4 linked regions of the Homo sapiens genome follow. The protein of the gene in region 1 purifies or fractionates together with the protein of each later gene. This does not show direct contact. Each region holds a gene or a part of one and is shown in the gene's direction. Other genes may lie near its edges.

Region 1 (5,487 bases):
CACACAGTCCAGCCTGGTTGAGGCTTCCAGGCTGAGCTGGCTTTTTCTCCCAAGGCAGAAAGGGCATTGGCTCTAGCTTACAGTCCGAGCAGCCACCCTCTCCTGCTTCATGACTTTGGGTGGACGGGAGTTCTGTCTTCCTACTCCTTGCTCCACAGGGGCTATGGTCCTGCCAGGACAGGTGAAAGGTGATGTCAACTGGCATCTGGCATTCAGCTGGTCTCTGGAGGTGGGTGGAGGGAACAGGGTGTCCGTGGGAGAGACCCTGGCCTGCCGTGGGAATCATGCAGAGATCTCAAGTTATGATTTTCTCTGGCGCAGGGGCTCTTTGGCACACAGAAGATGGGGTAAGTCTCTTCAATGCCAAACATGTGGAGGAAGAACATGTGTGAGCATGGTTTACTTTCTCTCCTAAATATGTATTCAAATAAGTACTTTCTGGTTTATGGAGGGTGAGTTCTAACCAGAAATGAGAAGTAAGTAGCACTGTCAGTCATTGTTAACCTCTTGGCTAGCTCTGAGTAGATTGAGAAAGGGGTGGGAGAAGCATCCTCCAACAACCGAGCACTTCCTGTACATTGACCAGGTAGGTAGGCACGTTGATCACAAACACCTTGAGGGACAGCTTCCAAGTATATGCATTCACAGATGAGAAGCATGCTTCAGACAACACAAAATTCATTTTTAACCCGGCTTTCTTTTGGCAGTAAATTTCTCTTCCTAATCATATTTTGCATAAACTAATATTAGAGTGGATTTGCATTTTCAGAGCACAAGATGGAGGAGTGGTGGAGGCGGTTCAGGTGGGTGGCAGGCTGGTCTGGGCTTTAAAAATTGTCCAGAGGTAACTGAGGAGATGAATCAAACCAGACTGAGCTGACTACTTAACACTAGCAGTCAAGATCATCCTGGCTGGGCATGGTGGCTCACGCCTGTAATCCTAGTACTTTGGGAGGCCAAGGCAGGCAGATCACCCGAGGTCAGGAGTTCGAGACCAGCCTGGCCAAGGTGGTGAAACCCCGTCTCTACCAAAAATACATAAATTAGCTGGGAATAGTGGCGTGCACTTGTAGTCCCAGCTACTCGGGAGGCTGAGGCAGAACTGCTTGAACCCAAGAGGCGGAGGTTGCAGTGAACCAAGATTGCACCACTGCACTCCAGCCTGGGCAACAGAGGGAGACTCAAAAAAAAAAAAAAAAAAAAAAGATTATCCTGATAAAACCAGCCTTGAATATGGAAAGTGTCTTCTAGGGACCCCTCAGGTTATAGATGTTATACCTTAGAATCTCTCTATTTTACAGAGGGGTAAATTGAGGCAGAAAACCCAAAGAAGGCTTAGGGACGATTTTCGAGGCTACTCACTTCATGGTGTTTCTTTCAGAGATTAGCAGCTATTACTGAACTCCAGGAGGCAACAGGAGGGGGATGGGATGGAGGTGGGGACCCGCTGAAGAAGGCCTAGGTGGGAGACAGGTAACGTGGTACAGGTACCCACCCCACAACTCATTAAGGGCCATGGAGGGAGGAAGGCTCTCAAGTGCCACGAAAATTCCCAAAGCAGCAGAGGGCTTGTATGGAAACGCCGGTTATTCGTCCCTACCCGGCCCCCGCCCCCCGCCCCCCCGACTGCCCCTGCCGTCGCCTCCCCGTGGGCAAGTGGTGGGGGCCTGGGCTTACAACCACACGTTCTCCTCCAACTAGCATCCCTTCCAGGGTGCACTAGGATGCCTCTCAGAGGTTCTCCCCCGCCTCCCGAAGGAAAGGGGAAAACCCCGTGGGCGTCCGGAGAGCCTTTGCGCCTCGCCAGGTGGAGGGACCGGCGCCACCCAGACCCGCGAGCCGAGACCCTCCCCGCGGCGTCGCTGCGGGAGGGGCGGAAGAGCGCGGGCGGTGGGCGGGAGCGGTGCTGCGAGGCGGGATCTGCGGGGCGTCCAATCCCCTTCTTCCCCCGCCCGCCCCCTCCCCGCCCCCCGAACGCTTTCCACCAACTGCGCGCGGCAGTGGGCGGGGCCCGTCACGGCTGTCGTCTTGGGTGCGATTTTTTTCTCCTCCTTTTTTTACCCTCCCGTTTTTTTCTTTTCTTTTTTTTTTCCCTATCCTTTTTTTGTGAATGAAAAAAGGAGGTCGCGAGCGGTACCTGGGACTGCAGCGCCAGGCGTCTTCGCGGCAGCGCCTTCGCCGCGGGCCCGGGCGCGTAGCGGCGGCGGCCTCGCCCCTCTCCCGGCGCCCCTGCGCGCCGCCCGCTGCCTCCGCAGCCCGGCTCCGCGCGCCGCCGTGACATTGGGCGCCTGGCGCGCGGGGCGATGCTGATCCGGAAGGGGCAGCGGCTGCAGTGCAGCGCGCGCGTCCGCTCCTGGGCCCACGTCCGGCCTGGGCTGCCCTGCCGGAGTTTCTGAGTGGCCGCGAGCTGGCCGGGAGGCTGGAGCCCAGCAGCAGCGCGGCGGCGCCGGCGTCGTCCCAACTTGCAGGCGCGGAGGGACCCCTGACATTTCACTAAAATGAGCGTGCTCAGCAGGAAGAGATGTGTTCCTCACGCTAGAAGCCACCCCGTCACATGTAGTGGTGTAAGTAGATGGCTGCTTGCGGTTATGGCGGGGTGGCCAGCAGCCCTTGCAGACGCGCCGCTCCGCCCTCCCTGCCCTGCCGCGCCCCTCGCTACGTTCCCCGGGCCCCGCTAGTCCCTGGGCTCTGGCTTCGGCTGCTGGGTACAGCGGGGCTGGAGCCTAATCCTTTCCGGTGTTTCTAGGGAAAGGAAGATGACTTGATTGCTTCGGCCTGTCGTGCCCCTCCCCCTTCTCGATGTTTAAAAATTTTTAAATTTCTATTTTGTGTGTGTGCAGAGTAGCGTGTCAGAAAAAAGGAAAAACGGTCCAGAGTGGTGGGAGTGATTCTGTTAAGAAAACAAACACAAAACAACAGTGGAATTGGGGTGTTTTGCTGGCGGTTCCGGAGCTGGTTCTTTGAACTCAACTCCATTGCAGTCTATGTAACTGAGTTCTGTGAAACTACTGGGGAGATCTTTGGCGGTGTTTGGTGATGTGTCCACATTTTAGGTTTGAGGGGGCTTATCTGTGTTTAGGCTTGCATTTCTTTAATCTGACCATTCAGGGTCCCTTTGGGCCTTGCTTTCTGTTGGATCTGCACGGGGCTTCTTGCAATGCCAGCGACCCCCGTGGGAGCCTCCCCGAATTAGGAGTCCACTCTCTCTTTGTTCTTCTCCTTCCAATTCTCCATTCAATCCATCTCCCTTGATTTTACCTTCATTTTCAGGATTTTCCTCCCATTCCCATTTTGTAAGATGATGTGGGATACTGGTTGCTAGGAGACAAGCCAGGCTCCCAGGGAGATTCTGTTGTTTCCTTGACAACCAGACTAGGGCAGCCACAGATGAACAAGCCTCCTATCAGCTGTGGGAGGGAAAGGGGCCCTTTCTGAGCTCTGCAAAGAGTGTGTGTAGGGGTGTGGGGGTGGGACTGGGAGAGCACGAGGTTTGTAGCTAATTTCAGCACACCTTGGGTTTTGGCTTGCACCAAGTACAAAGAGCTGGGAGAGCGGTGGGCAGGAGGCTGTTTTTGGAGGGGCACAGGGATCATGGGACAGGGATGGAAGGAACACATGCCAGTGACTTTGCGATTGTCATGGAAGAGGAGTGAGTTGGGGGTTGTGATGCCCAGGGCTGGGTGGTGAGGAGGTCATAGTTTATGGAGGTTGATTGAGTGGGGATGAGGCAATTGTGAGGGAGAGTCTGGAGTCAGGGAAGAAGAGAGAGCCGGAGGGAGAGGGGAAGCTGAGAGGCTCACTGAATGGGCTGTATCACCATATATCAGCAATGAGTGGGCTGTATCACCATACATCAGCAATGATACAACATCAGCAACATCCTAGGGCAAAAATTATATTACTCTTGGCACACTCTCTCCAGGACAGGATCCTCCTTTAAGACAGGCCTGATTAGACTAAGAGTTCTAACACTTGAATTGGGCCAGTCTGTATCTTAAAGACAGATATAATTACACATATAGATATGCAATCTAGCATTATATAATACCACATTACATAAGAAGACAAATACCTCCTTTCAGCCCAGCCTCTCTTGGCACAAATTAACCACGGTTCAGGAGACTCTTCCAATGTCTTCATACCCATTTCCCAGAGGGGGAGACTGATGCCCAGAAAATATAAGTGACTTGCCTCTTCCTAGATAGGACAGTGAAGTTTGCCAGTCAGGCAGTTGGGACAGGGTAGAAAGGGTGAGATGATACAAACAGAGAGGCAGCTGAAGGACAAGGGGACTGCTGAAGGGGCTGGGGAATGGATGGAAGGGGTTGCGCAACCCAGAAGGTCTGATGTCTAAACTCATGGCACAGTATTTGTCAATTTCCACTTGTTGATTGGCTGACCACTGCTTAACTCTAGAGGTGACATAGCACAGGTGGGCAGCAGTGTTTTCATCACAAAGTAGCTGAACTTGGCCCAGCACTGCTCTGCTGGTGTTCTGGCATTATTCTCACTGTCAAGGTGCTCCTGAATTTGAGAACTGGCATCCCTCCATTAGGCCTCCTCATTCCCCCGCTTCTGTCTACAGACCTACATGCTGGGAGAATCGGAACTTGAGAAAGAAGTTCTTTTGGCTCTTGGGTTTTAATCTTTATCCTCCAGCTGCACATATTTTGTATTTGGGATTATATCTGTTTTGGTATTCACTCGACAAAACAGAAACCACAGCCCAGATGCTGCCTCCTGGCGCCAGCACATTCCTCAACTTGAGATCAGGAACTGTCAAAGTGGGGTTCCCGGTCCTCAGTTCAGGAGAGAGAATTGGGAGGAGGAAGCCTGTGGTTAGAATAACAGTTCTTAACAGTTCTCTGGGCCAGGTGTGGTGGCTCACGCCTGTAATCCCAGCACTTTGGGAGGCCAAGGCGGGCAGATCACTTGAGGTCAGGAGTTTAAGACCAGCCTGACCAACATGGCGAAACCCCGTATCTACTAAAAATACAAAATTAGCCGGCATAGTGGCACACACCTGTAATCCCAGCTACCTGGGAGGCTGAGGCAGGAGAATCACTTGAACCCAGGAGGCAGAGGCTGCAGTGAGCCGAGATCATGCCACTGCACTCCAGCCTGGGTGTCAAGCGCAAAACTCCGTCTCAAAAAAATACAAAAACAAAAAACGGTTGTCTGCTGAGGGAGGGTTAGGAGAGAGAAGGGGTGGTACAGTTGCCCTGGAGACCATGAGGGCACTGCATGGAGACCTCGTTGAAGGGTCCAGATCCTGTAACATTCCAAAAAGGCGGAGGAGGTTGTCTCATTGAGAAGTCCTTGCTGCACTTTTTGCTTAGGTTGCTGAGATGCATCCACTCGCACGGATCCCAGTTGCTATCGTTACTTGGATATTTCGGTCTGCATCCCTGCATGCTGGCATCCAGTTACAGCCCAGCAGGAATGGAGCCTCCCTGTTGTTGCTGGTGGCCTGGCTCTGGGCTGGAT
Region 2 (4,228 bases), on another chromosome or scaffold:
ACTGCGAGGTAACTCTTTCCTGAGTCCTGCAATCCAGCCAGGCATGGTGGCTCACACCTATAATCCAAGCAATTTGAGAGACCAAGGCAAGAGGATCACTTGAGGCCAGGAGTTTAGGACTAGCCTGGGCAACATAGTGAGACACTGTCTCTACAAAAAAATTTGCTTTAAAAACCACACTTCTCATTATATTCTCTTTCTCCCTTCCCTAGGGTATAAAGACGCTGGCTGTGTGTCCCAACAACGATATGAAAGAGCTTGTTGGATGAAGTCTTCTTTAGAAGAAGGCATTTCTGTGTTGAAATCTATTGAGTTTTTGAGCTCTAAATGGAAAAAATTAATCCCAGAGGCTTCTATAAGTACTAGTAGAAGTCTGCCTGTCAGGTATGCATTTTTAATATAGACCTTTCTCACTTTTTATAGAAAAATAAGATCATAAGATCATTTCATAGAGACATTACCTATGTGTTCCTACCTACACATTTCAAATGAATGTAGCTTGTTTTTGGCTTCTTTTCAAAATCCGTTAGCTGTAACTCATCTTTTTTCTTTCTTTTTTTTTTTTTTTTTTTTTTGAGACAGTCTCGCTCTTTCACCCAGGCCAGACTGCAGTGGTGCGATCTCGGCTCACTGCAAGCTCCGCCTCCCGGGTTCGCGCCATTCTCCTGCCTCAGCCCCCCGAGTAGCTGGGACTACAGGCGCCTGCCACCGCGCCCGGCTAATTTTTTGTATTTTTTAGTAGAGATGGGGTTTCACTGTGTTAGCCAGGATGGTCTCGATCTCCTGATCTCGTGATCCGCCCGCCTCGGCCTCCCAAAGTGCTGGGATTACAGGCGTGAGCCACTGCACCCGGCCTAACTCATCTGTTTTCTAAGTATTAAAAAATATATGGCTGGATGCAGTGGCTCACACCTATAATCCCAGAATTTTGGGAGGCCAAGGCAGTCGGATCACTTGAGTTCAGGAGTTTGAGACCTGCCTGGCCAATGTGGCAAAATCCCATCTCTACTAAAAATACAAAAATTAGCCGGGCGTGGTAGTGCACACCTGTAATCCCAGCTACTTGGGAGGTTGAGGCAGGAGAATCACTTGAACCTAGGAGGCAGAGGTTGCAGTGAGCCAAGATCACGCCTCTGCACTCCAGCCTGGGTGAGAGTGAGACCCTGTCTCAAAGAAAAGAAAAAATCACATATATATATATATTCTAAATTATTATTTTTATTTTTTATATGATTTCTCTGTGGCTCCCATTGAGTTCTTTTGGCTTTCATAAGATTTAGAAGGCTCAAACCAAGAAAAGTTGTTATCTGCTTTCTTTTCTAGTCTTGGAGCAATGTGGAATGATCTGATCTTGTCCATGAGCTATAGCAAGGAAACTCCTTTGTTTTTAATTTTTTTGAGATGGAGTTTCACTCTCCTTGCTCAGGCTAGAGTGCAATGGTGCGATCTCGGCTCATCGCAACCTCCCAGCTTCTGGGTTCAAGTGATTCTCCTGCCTCAGCCTCCCAAGTAGTTGGGATTACAGGCGCCTGCCACCACACCTGGCTATTTTTTTTTTTTTTTTTTTTGAGATGGAGTCTCACTCTGTCAGGAGTGCAATGGCATGATCTCGGCTCACTGCAACCTCTGCCTCCCGGGTTCAAGCAATTCTCCTGCCTCAGCCTCCTGAGTAGCTAGGATTACAGGCATGCACCACCACACCCGGCTAATTTTTGTATTTTTAGTAGAGACAGGGTTTCACCATGTTGGCCAGGCTGTGCTCGAACTCTTGACCTTAAGTGATCCACCTGCCTTGGCCTCTCAAAGTGCTGGGATTACAGGGATGAGCCACCATGCCTGGCCCAAGTTTTTATTTTCATGAGGGTTTCCCAAAGCACTAGCACCAGCAATGAAACAGATTTTTAATAATAGTAACAGCAGGTTTTAAAGAATTTGCGTAATCATCTTTCATATCAGGGGATCTCATTCATAGAAATGACAGCCTTATTCACAAATAAGGATGGTGGATATCTTTGTCCATTCAGACTGCTATAACAAAACACCTTAGACTGGATAATTTATAAACAACAGTAATTTATTGCTGACAGTTTTGGAGACTGAAGTCCAAGATCAAGGCACCAGCAGATTAGGTGTCTGGTGAGGGCTTGCTGTTTGCTTCCAAGATGGTGCCTTCTTGCTGTGTTCTCACATAGCAAAAGGGCAAAAAGCTCCCCAACCCTCTTTTATTGGGGCACTAATCCCACTTATAAGCGCCAGAACCCTCATGCCCTAATCACCTCCTAAGGGCCCCACCTCTAAAAACTGTCATATTGAGCATTAGATTCCAACATAAGAATTTAAGTGGGGGATACTACCAACATTCAGACTATAGCAGTGGATATATTTGTTTACTAGCTAACTGGCTTACACTAGGCACCAGGAAATGGTTGTAGTGTAAGCAGTTTAAAATTGACTCATTTCTCCAGCTGTTTATTCATTTGTTTAAATTTAGGAGGGTTCACATTATTTCAAAAGTTGGACAAATAATTTATAACACAGGCCAGGCACAGTGGCTCATGCCTGTAATCCCATCGTTTTGGGAGGCTGAGGTGGGCAGATCACTTGAGGCCAGAAGTCAAGACCAGACATGGCAAAACCCTGTCTCTACTAAAAATACAAAAATTAGCCAGGCATGGTGGAGCACACCTGTAATCCCAGCTATTCAAGAGGCTGAGGGAGGAGAATCACTTGAACCTAGAAGGCAGAAGTTGCAGTGAGCCGAAATCACACCACTGCACTCCAGCCTGCGTGACACAGCAAGTCTCTGTATCAAAAAAAAAAAAAAAAAGAATTTATATAACACTATGCTTTCTTTTATAACAAATATCACACTAATTCGTGTAATAGGAACTTGCATTGAATGTGACTGATGTGTATTGATGAATATTGAGAGTGTGGGAAGTGATCGTTTTCAGCAGTCTCAGATGCTAACTGATGAATAAAAAGATGAACAAATGAACAATGAAAACTTATCAGCTATGTTTTTACCATAACAATCCCAGGAGTAGCCATTTTGTTTAGATGGATTTTTTTTAAAAAGGTCAGTTTAAAAAGGTAATTTGGCCAGATTCCTTTTTAATTCAGGCATATTTCCCTTCAGGAGGAATCAGTCTACATATTTGATTTGAGAATATTTGCAGTCTACCACTTAGCCTTTCTTTCTTTCTTTTTTTTTTTTTTTGAGACGGAGTCTCACTCTGTCACCTAGGCTGGAGTGCAATGGCACAATCTTGGCTCACTGCAACCTCCGCCTCCTGGGTTCAAGTGATTCTCCTGCCTCAGCCTTCTGAGTAGCTGGGCCTACAGGCGCTTGCCACCATGCCTGGCTAATTTTTGTTTGTATTTTTAGTAGAGACAGGGTTTCACCGTGTTAGCCAGGATGGTCTCAATCTCCTTACCTCAAGATCTGCCTGCCTTGGCCTCCCAAAGTGCTGGGATTACAGGCATGAGTCACTGTGCCTGGCCTTAGCCTTTTTTAGCGAACTCACTTGATCAATGCCCAGACATATAAAGCTAAAAAGATTTTAAAATCCGGTTAAAAATACACTTGCTGCATACATGCCAGACTATGTAGTAAGCGCTGACCAGTTGAACCTGACTCTGAACAGGCATTTAACAGAAGAGATACACAAATGCATGTACATGTGCACCTATGCGTAACACATACACACACACACACACACATTTTCTGTCAGGATTACAGAGAAATGTATTGATGTGTTAGGTAGCTCAGAAATTCCCTCCTGGCTTTGTTGAAGTATGCTAACTTATCCATTCTTTGCCAGAGCTCTGTACTCTGAGGCTTAGGCTTGATTCAAAGCAGTTCTTGAAGTTTGGAGTTGAGAATAGCTCAAAGCCTTGTGAACAGATTTTTTTAAAACTATCTCGAATTCTGGTGCTCAGGTGATTCTCCTACCTCTGCCTCCCAAAGTGCTGGGATTACAGACATAATCCCCCCAAAAAAGAACATAATTACCATCTTAACTATTTGTAAGTGTACATTTCAGTAGTTTAAGTATATTCATATGGTTGCAAAATAGATCTCCAGGACTTTTTCATCTTGCAAAACTCAAACACTATACCCATTAGACAGTAACTCCCCCTTTCTCTCCTTCCCCCAGCCCCTGGTAACCCCATTCTACTCTGTTTCTATGGATTTGACTAGAATCATACAGTATGTGGCCAGGCA
Region 3 (4,228 bases), on another chromosome or scaffold:
TGGCCAGGCTAGTCTCGAACTCCTGACCTCAGGTGATCTCTGCTGGGCTCCCAAAGTGCTGGGATTACAAGTGTGAGCCACGGTGCCTGGGCCTTGTTCCTCTTTTTTCCTGGTAATTTTCTTTGTTGAGACATCTGTCTTATTTGATATTACTGTTGTTACGGTAGCTTCTTTTGATTGGTTTTTGCATGGCGTATCTTTTCCTATCCATTGCTTTGAACTTTTAACCTACCTGTATCTTTATATTTGAAATTAGTTTCCTGGTTCATTATTTTTATTCACTCTGCTAATCTCTGTCTTGTAGTAGTGTTTTAGGCCATTTACATTTAATCTAATTGTTAAATATTAGAACTTAAGTGTGCCATTTTATTGTTTTTTGATTGTTTCCTGTGTTTTTTCTTCTGTTTCCCTTTTCCTGCCTGCTGTGACTTACTCGAATATTTTTAGTATCTCATTTTGATTTATCTGTTATGTTTTGGTGTATATCTCCTTGTATGGTTTTCATAGTGGTGGCTATACAAATTACAATGTATTTATGTAATTCAACACAGTTTACTTGTACAGGTATTTTACTACTTCTAAGTGAAATATAGAAACTTTATCACCATTTAGGTCTCTATCCTCTCCCCTTTACAATTTAGTTGTCTTAAGTATTTCCTCTGCATACCTTGAGAACCGTATTAATATTATGATTTTTTTTAAATACCTAGCCTTTTCAGTAACTCAGGAGGAAACATATTTATCTGCATGTTTATCTGTTCTGTTATTTTTTCTTCATTCCACGATGCTCTAGGTTTCTTTCGTTTTTCCTTTATATTTGAAAAAATTTTTTCAGCAGTTGTCTTAGGGCAGGTCTGCTTGTGACAGATTCTCTTAGTTTTTCTCTACGGTTTTACAGTTTTCATCTGTCATCTCCATTTTGCTATTAAACTGCTCTTGTGATTTTTTGTTATTGTATTTTTCTTTGAAATTTCTATTTGTTTCTTCTTTATATCTCCTGTTTCTTTGCTAAGACTAGTTTTTCCTTTGTCTCAGGTGTTTGTAATTGCTCATTGAAGTATTTTTTATGACAGTCACTTTAAAATCCTTGTTAGACCTAAGTTCTGTGTTCTCTCTTGGTGGTATCTGTTGATTGACTGTGTTTTCTCATTCAAATTGCCATTTTTCTGGTTCTTGGTCATTTTTTATCATATTGTGGACATGCTGGGTATGATGTCATGAGACTCTGCTTCCTGTTTAAATCCCCTTACTTGAGAAGACTCCTCACTCGAGCCTGCTGGGTGCCACCTTGTTGCCGGGACAGTCATGGAGCTCCTGCCTCACCCACGGCCTCTGGCAGACCCTACTGGCTGGGAGAGTGAAGGGCACCACCTCGTTCTAGCCAGGCCGGGACAGCAGTCAGGATCCATTCTCACACCCCGGTGCTGGCTGCTGCGCAAGGCCAGGTGGACGAGGGGTGTGTGTGTGTGTGTGTGTATGTGTGTGTGTGTGTGCGCGCGAGTGGGGGTTTGCTTGCAGGAGGGCTGATGATGTGAAGAGAGTCTGTCCTGCAAGGCCCCTCCTGGTGCCAAGTGGACGAGGGGTGTGTGCGTGTGTGTATGTGTTGTTGTGTGTGTGGGTGGGGGTTTGCTTGCAGGAGGGCTGATGATGTGAACAGTGTGTGTGGTTGCAGGAGGGCTGATGATGTACAGAGAGTCTGTCCTGCCAGGCCCCTCCTGGTCCTTTGGCCATCGAGAGCAGGCTTACGGTTTTTGGTCTTTTTGTGTTTCTGGGCTGCCGACTTCTGTGGCACCCAGAGTGGGATGTGTAGTAAATAAGCATAAACAAAACCCCAGAGTCAAGCCAGGGACTCAGCGCTGGGTTCTCTCTCGAGTGCCGAGGCCCCTGGCTGGTTGGCTTCTGTTCCTTTCAGTCCCCCAATGCTTGTTCCGTATATTTTCCTCCAGGGCAGTGGGTCTAATATGCGGGAGGAGCAGGTTGAAATGTGTCCTCTCCATGTTGCCTGGAACTGGAAGAGCTCAAACCAAATTTTAAACTTAATCAGAACATATTCTGGTTGGGTGTGGTGGCTCATGCCTGTAGTCTTGGGAGGCCGAGGTGGATGGATCACCTGAGGTCAGGAGTTCGAGACCAGCCTGGCCAACATGGTCAGGAAACCACAAGACTGTCACGGAAACCCTTTTCTTTCAGTAACATGAGCCAAAGGTCACTGCACCTTGTCCCCTCCTGACCCTGTCCCGGTGGCAGGGTGTGGGGGACAATGAACTGCTTGTCTGTGTGCCTCCAAGTGGGGCAAAACCAGGCAGCATCCTGCTGTTTAGCTGCACCTGAGACGATGCCTGAGGGCTACCTGAGGAAACAGGGAAACGTGGGGTTTTAGCCGGATGTGGTGGCGTGTCCCTGTAATCCCAGCTACTCAGGAGACTGAGGCGGGAGAATCACTTGAACCTAGGAGGTGGAGGTTGCAGTGAGCCGAGATCGCACCACGGTACTCCAGCATGGGCAACAGAGTAAGACTCCATCTGAAAACAAAAACAAAAAAACCAAAACATATTCTAAAACATAAATGTTCCCAGGAAAGTATTGATGTATTCGGATCTAAACTGCCTTTTTGATTACGGAAACTTTCATCTTGTAATTAATGTTGATGTAGTGACTGCTTATGGGGTGCGTGGAGCTTGCACAGCCCGACCACAGTTGTAACAGGAGGACAGCAGACAGGTTACCCGACGAGTGGGTTTCAGATGGTGATGGCTGCAAGGGGTGACAGAATTGAGCAGCCAGAAGTGGAGGCGGGAGATGAAGTAGAGGGGTGTTCCTGGGGAGAGACGGTTTTGGAGGGAGAGGCAGTAAAGGTGGGAAGAAGCGTGTGGGCTTGGAGGTATTGTAGAGATAAACATAAGCCGAAACTTCAGGTACGTTCCTTGCTCGTCAGTGCTGATATTCCAACTCCAAAGGAGTTGCACTGAGTTCTAGGTGCCTCTTTCAGATTACGAGGATACATATCTCTCTGAGAAAAGCTGAAAATACAGAAATGTGTAAGAGGGAAAATAAAGGGATTTATTCCACAATAGGACACATGTGTTAAAGTTTGTCTTTCAATCTTTTTACATATACTGTTAGAGGAAGAAATGTTTTGAATGACCCTTGTCAGGCACAGTGAGGAAGGCTTTATTCAGAACCATTGAGGTGGGCCTGGGGCCACTGCGCTGGGATTTTGCAGTGGGGGAGAGAGATGGAGCTCAACTCCAAGTACAGCAGGGGCCGGGGGGAGTTTATAGCCTAGGGTCAGGGTGGGGGCAGTGGATGGAAAATGACTGAGAGGACACATGAGGAGTAAGGGGATTTGGGCTAAACCAACTGAACAGGATTATTGCGAAAGAGAGGCCAGGGTGAGCAGACACCACCTATGGGATCTGGGGATGAGGAACCTGAGCAGATACTGAGGGTGGGGGTTTTGGCCGCACTAAACTGGACTTTACAAGGAAGGGCACAGATGGCCGAGGAGAAGATTCAGGAGCCTGAGTAAAGTTGAATTAAACCAAGAATCTGTGTCAGTTTCTACTCCATATCCAACACCAAGAACTTGACCGTTATTATAATTGTTTTCAAAATAAAAGATTAAAATCTTACAATTTTTCTATTCTTAGCTGAGCTTCAGTCATTGTCTATTCCTGGAACTTACCAAGAGAAGATCACCCACCTGGGACATTCTCTGATGAGTTTAACAGGTCTGAAATCTTTGGATCTCTCGCGCAACTCCTTGGTTAGTCTGGAGGTAAGTTTTAGGTCTCTTTCTTAAAATTTATTGCTATCAACATCAGTGGAAAGTCCATTCACAGCAGAAACGGAGTCTGTTTTGTAACCCTCTGCTTACATCTGTATACGGTACACTTTGTGTTGCGTATTTTTGTGTTTACCGTGGGCTACATTTCATACACATCACGTTACGTTGTGTTGTCGCCCTCTGATGACGATGATTATATCTTTAAAGGAAATGAAATGAGACCCCAGAGACTTACTGAGTGGCAGTGCAGTGGGCCTGGGGCTGCCTCCTGGGCTCCTGGCAGGGTCACCCTGGAGAGAGATGCCTAGGTGGTGGTGAGGGGAGCTGTGCACAACTACCATGGCCTGATTGGCCCTGACAGAACCGTGGGATGCGCCTGCCCTGAGCCCGATGCCTGAGCATTATGGAGGCTGCGTCTGCATGGCCTGATTGGCCCGGACA
Region 4 (4,228 bases), on another chromosome or scaffold:
GAGCCTGGCTTTGTGCCTCTCACGTGGGTGCAGACTGGAACCGCATCCCAACTCTGCCCCCAGAAGCTCCCTGTTTTGAGGGGTGGATGGGCTGAGGTGCTCCCCAACAATTACAGAGGGGGCCAGGCATACCACAGGGGCATCCTCACTTGCTTCTGCCCCTCAGCCCTGACCTCCCTATCAGACTGCACACCTGTCACTCAGCCTATGGCCAGTTAACGAGATGCAGAACCAAAGGATGGACTCAGCCTCCCCTCCCTCTTCCTAGGAGCAGGTAGTTCCTTGGCCAAGGGTATAGGGGCCTCAGAGATGGTTCCTGGGGCCCCAGATGAGGGTCCGCAGCAGCAGAGGCCCAGAAAGTGACCAGGGCCCCCGCCAGGCATGCTTCAGCCCAGCCAAGCTCCTCACTGCGGGTTGGGAAAGCGCCTTCATTTCTGAATCCTTCATCTGCAGGGGTTGTGAACAAGTATCAGATCAATGGCCTGCAAGCCTGGCTCCTCACGCACCTGCTCTGGTTTGCAAACGCTCATCTCCTGTCCTGGTTCTCGCCCACCATCATCTTCGACAACTGGATCCCACTGCTGTGGTGCGCCAACATCCTTGGCTATGCCGTCTCCACCTTCGCCATGGTCAAGGGCTACTTCTTCCCCACCAGCGCCAGAGACTGGTATGTTCTTAGCAGCGGGTCCAGCCTGATGTAGAAAGTGCAAACTTCACCCCTGGCCTTTCTTGCTGCCTGGGGCAGGTGGTTGTAAAGCCCTGAGCACTGAGAATCCGTGGAAGAGGAGGAGGGGGATGGAACTTGCTTCACCCTGGGGAACATCCTTTCTGAATGTTTGGTGGCTTCTCCAGCCTTGGCAAGAATGCAGCTGAAGATGGCCAGGTCAGCTGTGGTGGCCAAGTCATTGCCTTTAGGGCTGGCGTGGGGGTAAGGAAGCCAGGAAAAACTTCTGGCTTGGGGCACAGGCAGCCCATTGCCTCTTTCTTTGGATAAGCTGGTGAGGCCCAAAACAACCTTAGTGAAGAGTCTTATTGTCCCTGTGGCTTTAATTAACAGCTTCCCAGGAGAGCCCTGCTGGCTTGTACCCATTCCCATGGCTGGACAGTGGTGAGCCACTCATCTCTGTCCACTCATCCATTCACCTGCCCATCTCCCCACCCACCCATCCACCCCCCTACCCATTCATCTACCTACTCACCCATCATCCACCTACCCATTGCCCCATCCCATTCACCCACCCACCAATGCATCATCCATCCACCTATCCATCACCCACATCCACCCACCCATCATCCATCCATCTACCCTCCCATCACCCATTCATCCATCTGCCCATCCACCTACCCACCCACCTACACATCTAGCCACACACCCATCCACCTGCCCATCTCCCCATCCTTCCACCTACCCACCCACCCATCCATCATCCATCTCATCCACCTGCCCATCCACCCTCCACCCCGTCTGTCTACCCACCCGTCATCTATTTGTCCATCCACCTATCCACCTACCCACCCACCTACACATCTAGCCACCCACCCATCCACCTGCCCGTCATCCATCCATTTACCCATCCATCCACTCTATCAGGGCCTGTAATGGCATGTGCCGAGGGGAAGGAATGCATCATCTCATCCAGGTCAACCTCCTGCCTGAGCAATGTCCGCAGCTCCTGACCGGCCTCCCTTACCCTCTCAGGCCCTCCTAGCCTGCTCCCTCTGGCTTCCTGGGTGACACTTCTGAACACACCTGATCCCTGCCACCCTGCACCCCAGCTCAACCCTGCCTATCATATATCCATCCACCTGCTCCTCTCCCCATCCCATTCATCCATCCTTCCACCCACTCACCCTGTTATCTATCCATCCATCCATCATAAACCAATGTTTGGGGGGTTCTCTTGTGGACAGTTGTAGGCAGTGGGACTTACAGTTCAGTTTGGGGGATCCAAAAAACCCCAGTGTGGTTTACACCTAGGCTCTTGGGAAATGTTTCTGGAGGATGACACTTTGTAGCTTGTGTGTTATCAGATAACGAGGCTGGCCTTCAATGGCTCCTGGAAATCATCCTCGCTACCTTATAATCATGTAGACTTTGTGTGTTTTGCTTCTTTCTACTTACCCTACCTGAGGGAACTGGACATGAAAATAGGATTTTCTAGTTAACACAGAAATTGTTGTGTGTCCTCAGCCAGCTAGACCTAGTCAGGGTCTCCACAGGGGTTATCTCGGCTGATGCTCTGGCCCTCCGGGGATTGGGGGATTCAGGTAACTGGTCAAAGAACTTGTCCTGCACATGCTGGAAGCCGGGCCCAGGGTGCGTTTGTCATTCTCTACGTTGGCGTGATTTATAATGTCACTCACCCATGAGGGCCCACGTGCCCTGCGTCGGCTTCAAACCGTGTGCTTGGGCCCCAGAACGTAATCTCAGTGCAATCAAGCCAGTTCTTCAGCTCACCTGTGCCATGCGTCAAGGGCATCTGGAGAAGGGTAGAGAGAAACCCAGGTACCAGCCCAGGGCCGGTCTCCCACCCTTCCCGGGTGCAGAGCAGGTGCCCCTGGGCTTCTGCCTAAGGAAGTCTCTGCTGAGCAGCAGCTGAATGCAAAGCAAAGTGAATGAGGGCGCCAGGAACCAGCCGACAAGCATTCCAGCCGTGGGGGTCCCAGCGGCTCATGGCCAGCTTCTGCCTGCGCCGTCTCACGTTACCCTTTAGGACCCTGGGCCAGTGCTGGGCTCTCGCTAAGTAAGGTGGCTTCATCTTGTGAGATATGCTCATCCACTAAATGTATCTTTTATTTATATTTTTAAGCAAATTCACAGGCAATTTCTTTTACAACTACATGATGGGCATCGAGTTTAACCCTCGGATCGGGAAGTGGTTTGACTTCAAGCTGTTCTTCAATGGGCGCCCCGGGATCGTCGCCTGGACCCTCATCAACCTGTCCTTCGCAGCGAAGCAGCGGGAGCTCCACAGCCATGTGACCAATGCCATGGTCCTGGTCAACGTCCTGCAGGTGCCTGTCATGGCTGGAGAGGGTGAAACGCCGATGCCGGCAGGCTCTGGGGGAACCCGCAAGCCAGAGCGTATTCCCATGACCTTAATCTACTGCTTGTAAAAGAGAGTCAGCTGCCCTCCCCAGGTGTCACCAGGAAGCAGCCGGCGAGCACTTGGTGAAGGAAGCCATCCTTGGGTGCCTGTCTCTGCCAGCCCTGGGAGGGGAGGAGGCAGGTTCTACGCAGCCAGGCGTGGTCCAGGAAGGTCTCCCTTGGGGATTACACCTGGGTAGAATCTGGGGGTGTGTGGGAGTTAACCTGGTAGAGTGGAGGCAAGAGTGCATGCTCCAGGAACCCCCTGTAGGGAGAGAGGGTGGCAAGTCTGGGACACTCAGAAACATCCCGCATCCTGACCAGAGAGCGTTCAGGAGCTCAGAGCCAGGTGAGGCTGGAGGCCTCATGGAAGTCTTCCTCTTTATCTTAAAAGCAGCAAGACCCAGAAAGTGTGTGCTGAGCTGGGGTGCAGGGTGGCAGCGATCAGGTGCATTCGGAAGCGTCACCCAGGGAGCCAGCGGGAGCTGGCTAGGAGAACCCGAGAGGGTGAGGGAGGCCTGTCAGGAGCTGTGGACGTTGCTCGGGCAGGAGGTTGACCTGGATGGGATGAATGTATCCCTTCCCCTTGGCACGCGCCATTGCAAGCCCTGAGAACCTGGGCTGGGAGAGATGCCAGGGCCATGGGCTCGGGGTGGTTCTGAGGACAAGGAAGCCCTTAGCCCTGCCCATGACCCAGGCAGGAACAGCCCCAGCCGCAGGGAAGGAACAGCCCCAGCATTGAGGAAGTTGCTGAGCAGCTCCCGAGCACCCCCTGCTGCATCTGCGTGGAGTGTGATTTCCCCGAGGTCCATGGGGGCCCCAGGAGGGCCGGGGGTGGTCAGCGGCTGCTTCTGTCTTGCAGGCCATCTACGTGATTGACTTCTTCTGGAACGAAACCTGGTACCTGAAGACCATTGACATCTGCCATGACCACTTCGGGTGGTACCTGGGCTGGGGCGACTGTGTCTGGCTGCCTTATCTTTACACGCTGCAGGTGAGGAGGTGGGCAGAGCTGGCCCAGCGGGGCATTTGGCAGACACATGCTAAGCTTTCTCCTTGCAGAAGCGTCTGTCCTTGGGGGCACCAAAGCTGCCCCCTGTTTCTAGGAAGAAGGGAAGGCCTCGTGTATTAGCCAGCTCA

The links. The genes of interacting proteins can lie anywhere in the genome.
Region 2: the proteins of RHOBTB2 (region 1) and MTO1 purify together in Homo sapiens (affinity purification with mass spectrometry, with the first as the bait; one large-scale study listed by BioGRID). This does not show direct contact.
Region 3: the proteins of RHOBTB2 (region 1) and CEP72 purify together in Homo sapiens (affinity purification with mass spectrometry, with the first as the bait; one large-scale study listed by BioGRID). This does not show direct contact.
Region 4: the proteins of RHOBTB2 (region 1) and DHCR7 purify together in Homo sapiens (affinity purification with mass spectrometry, with the first as the bait; one large-scale study listed by BioGRID). This does not show direct contact.

What each region holds. Positions count from the first base shown.
Region 1 is NC_000008.11:22,997,542-23,003,028, forward strand, and holds the start of RHOBTB2 (rho-related BTB domain-containing protein 2), read left to right. Parts: upstream 1-2,006; 5' UTR 2,007-2,564; intron 2,565-5,487. UniProt on the Homo sapiens protein: Regulator of cell proliferation and apoptosis. It likely functions as a substrate-adapter that recruits key substrates, e.g. MSI2, to CUL3-based ubiquitin ligase complexes for degradation. Required for MSI2 ubiquitination and degradation.
Region 2 is NC_000006.12:73,482,237-73,486,464, forward strand, and holds part of MTO1 (5-taurinomethyluridine-[tRNA] synthase subunit MTO1, mitochondrial), read left to right. Parts: coding exon 1-8; intron 9-212; coding exon 213-384; intron 385-4,228. UniProt on the Homo sapiens protein: Component of the GTPBP3-MTO1 complex that catalyzes the 5-taurinomethyluridine (taum(5)U) modification at the 34th wobble position (U34) of mitochondrial tRNAs (mt-tRNAs), which plays a role in mt-tRNA decoding and mitochondrial translation.
Region 3 is NC_000005.10:615,340-619,567, forward strand, and holds part of CEP72 (centrosomal protein of 72 kDa), read left to right. Parts: intron 1-2,489; exon of another isoform or gene 2,490-2,510; intron 2,511-3,650; coding exon 3,651-3,778; intron 3,779-4,228. UniProt on the Homo sapiens protein: Involved in the recruitment of key centrosomal proteins to the centrosome.
Region 4 is NC_000011.10:71,437,666-71,441,893, reverse strand, and holds part of DHCR7 (7-dehydrocholesterol reductase), read left to right. Parts: intron 1-453; coding exon 454-667; intron 668-1,057; coding exon of another isoform or gene 1,058-1,108; intron 1,109-2,810; coding exon 2,811-3,015; intron 3,016-3,950; coding exon 3,951-4,082; coding exon of another isoform or gene 4,083-4,090; intron 4,091-4,228. UniProt on the Homo sapiens protein: Oxidoreductase that catalyzes the last step of the cholesterol synthesis pathway, which transforms cholesta-5,7-dien-3beta-ol (7-dehydrocholesterol,7-DHC) into cholesterol by reducing the C7-C8 double bond of its sterol core.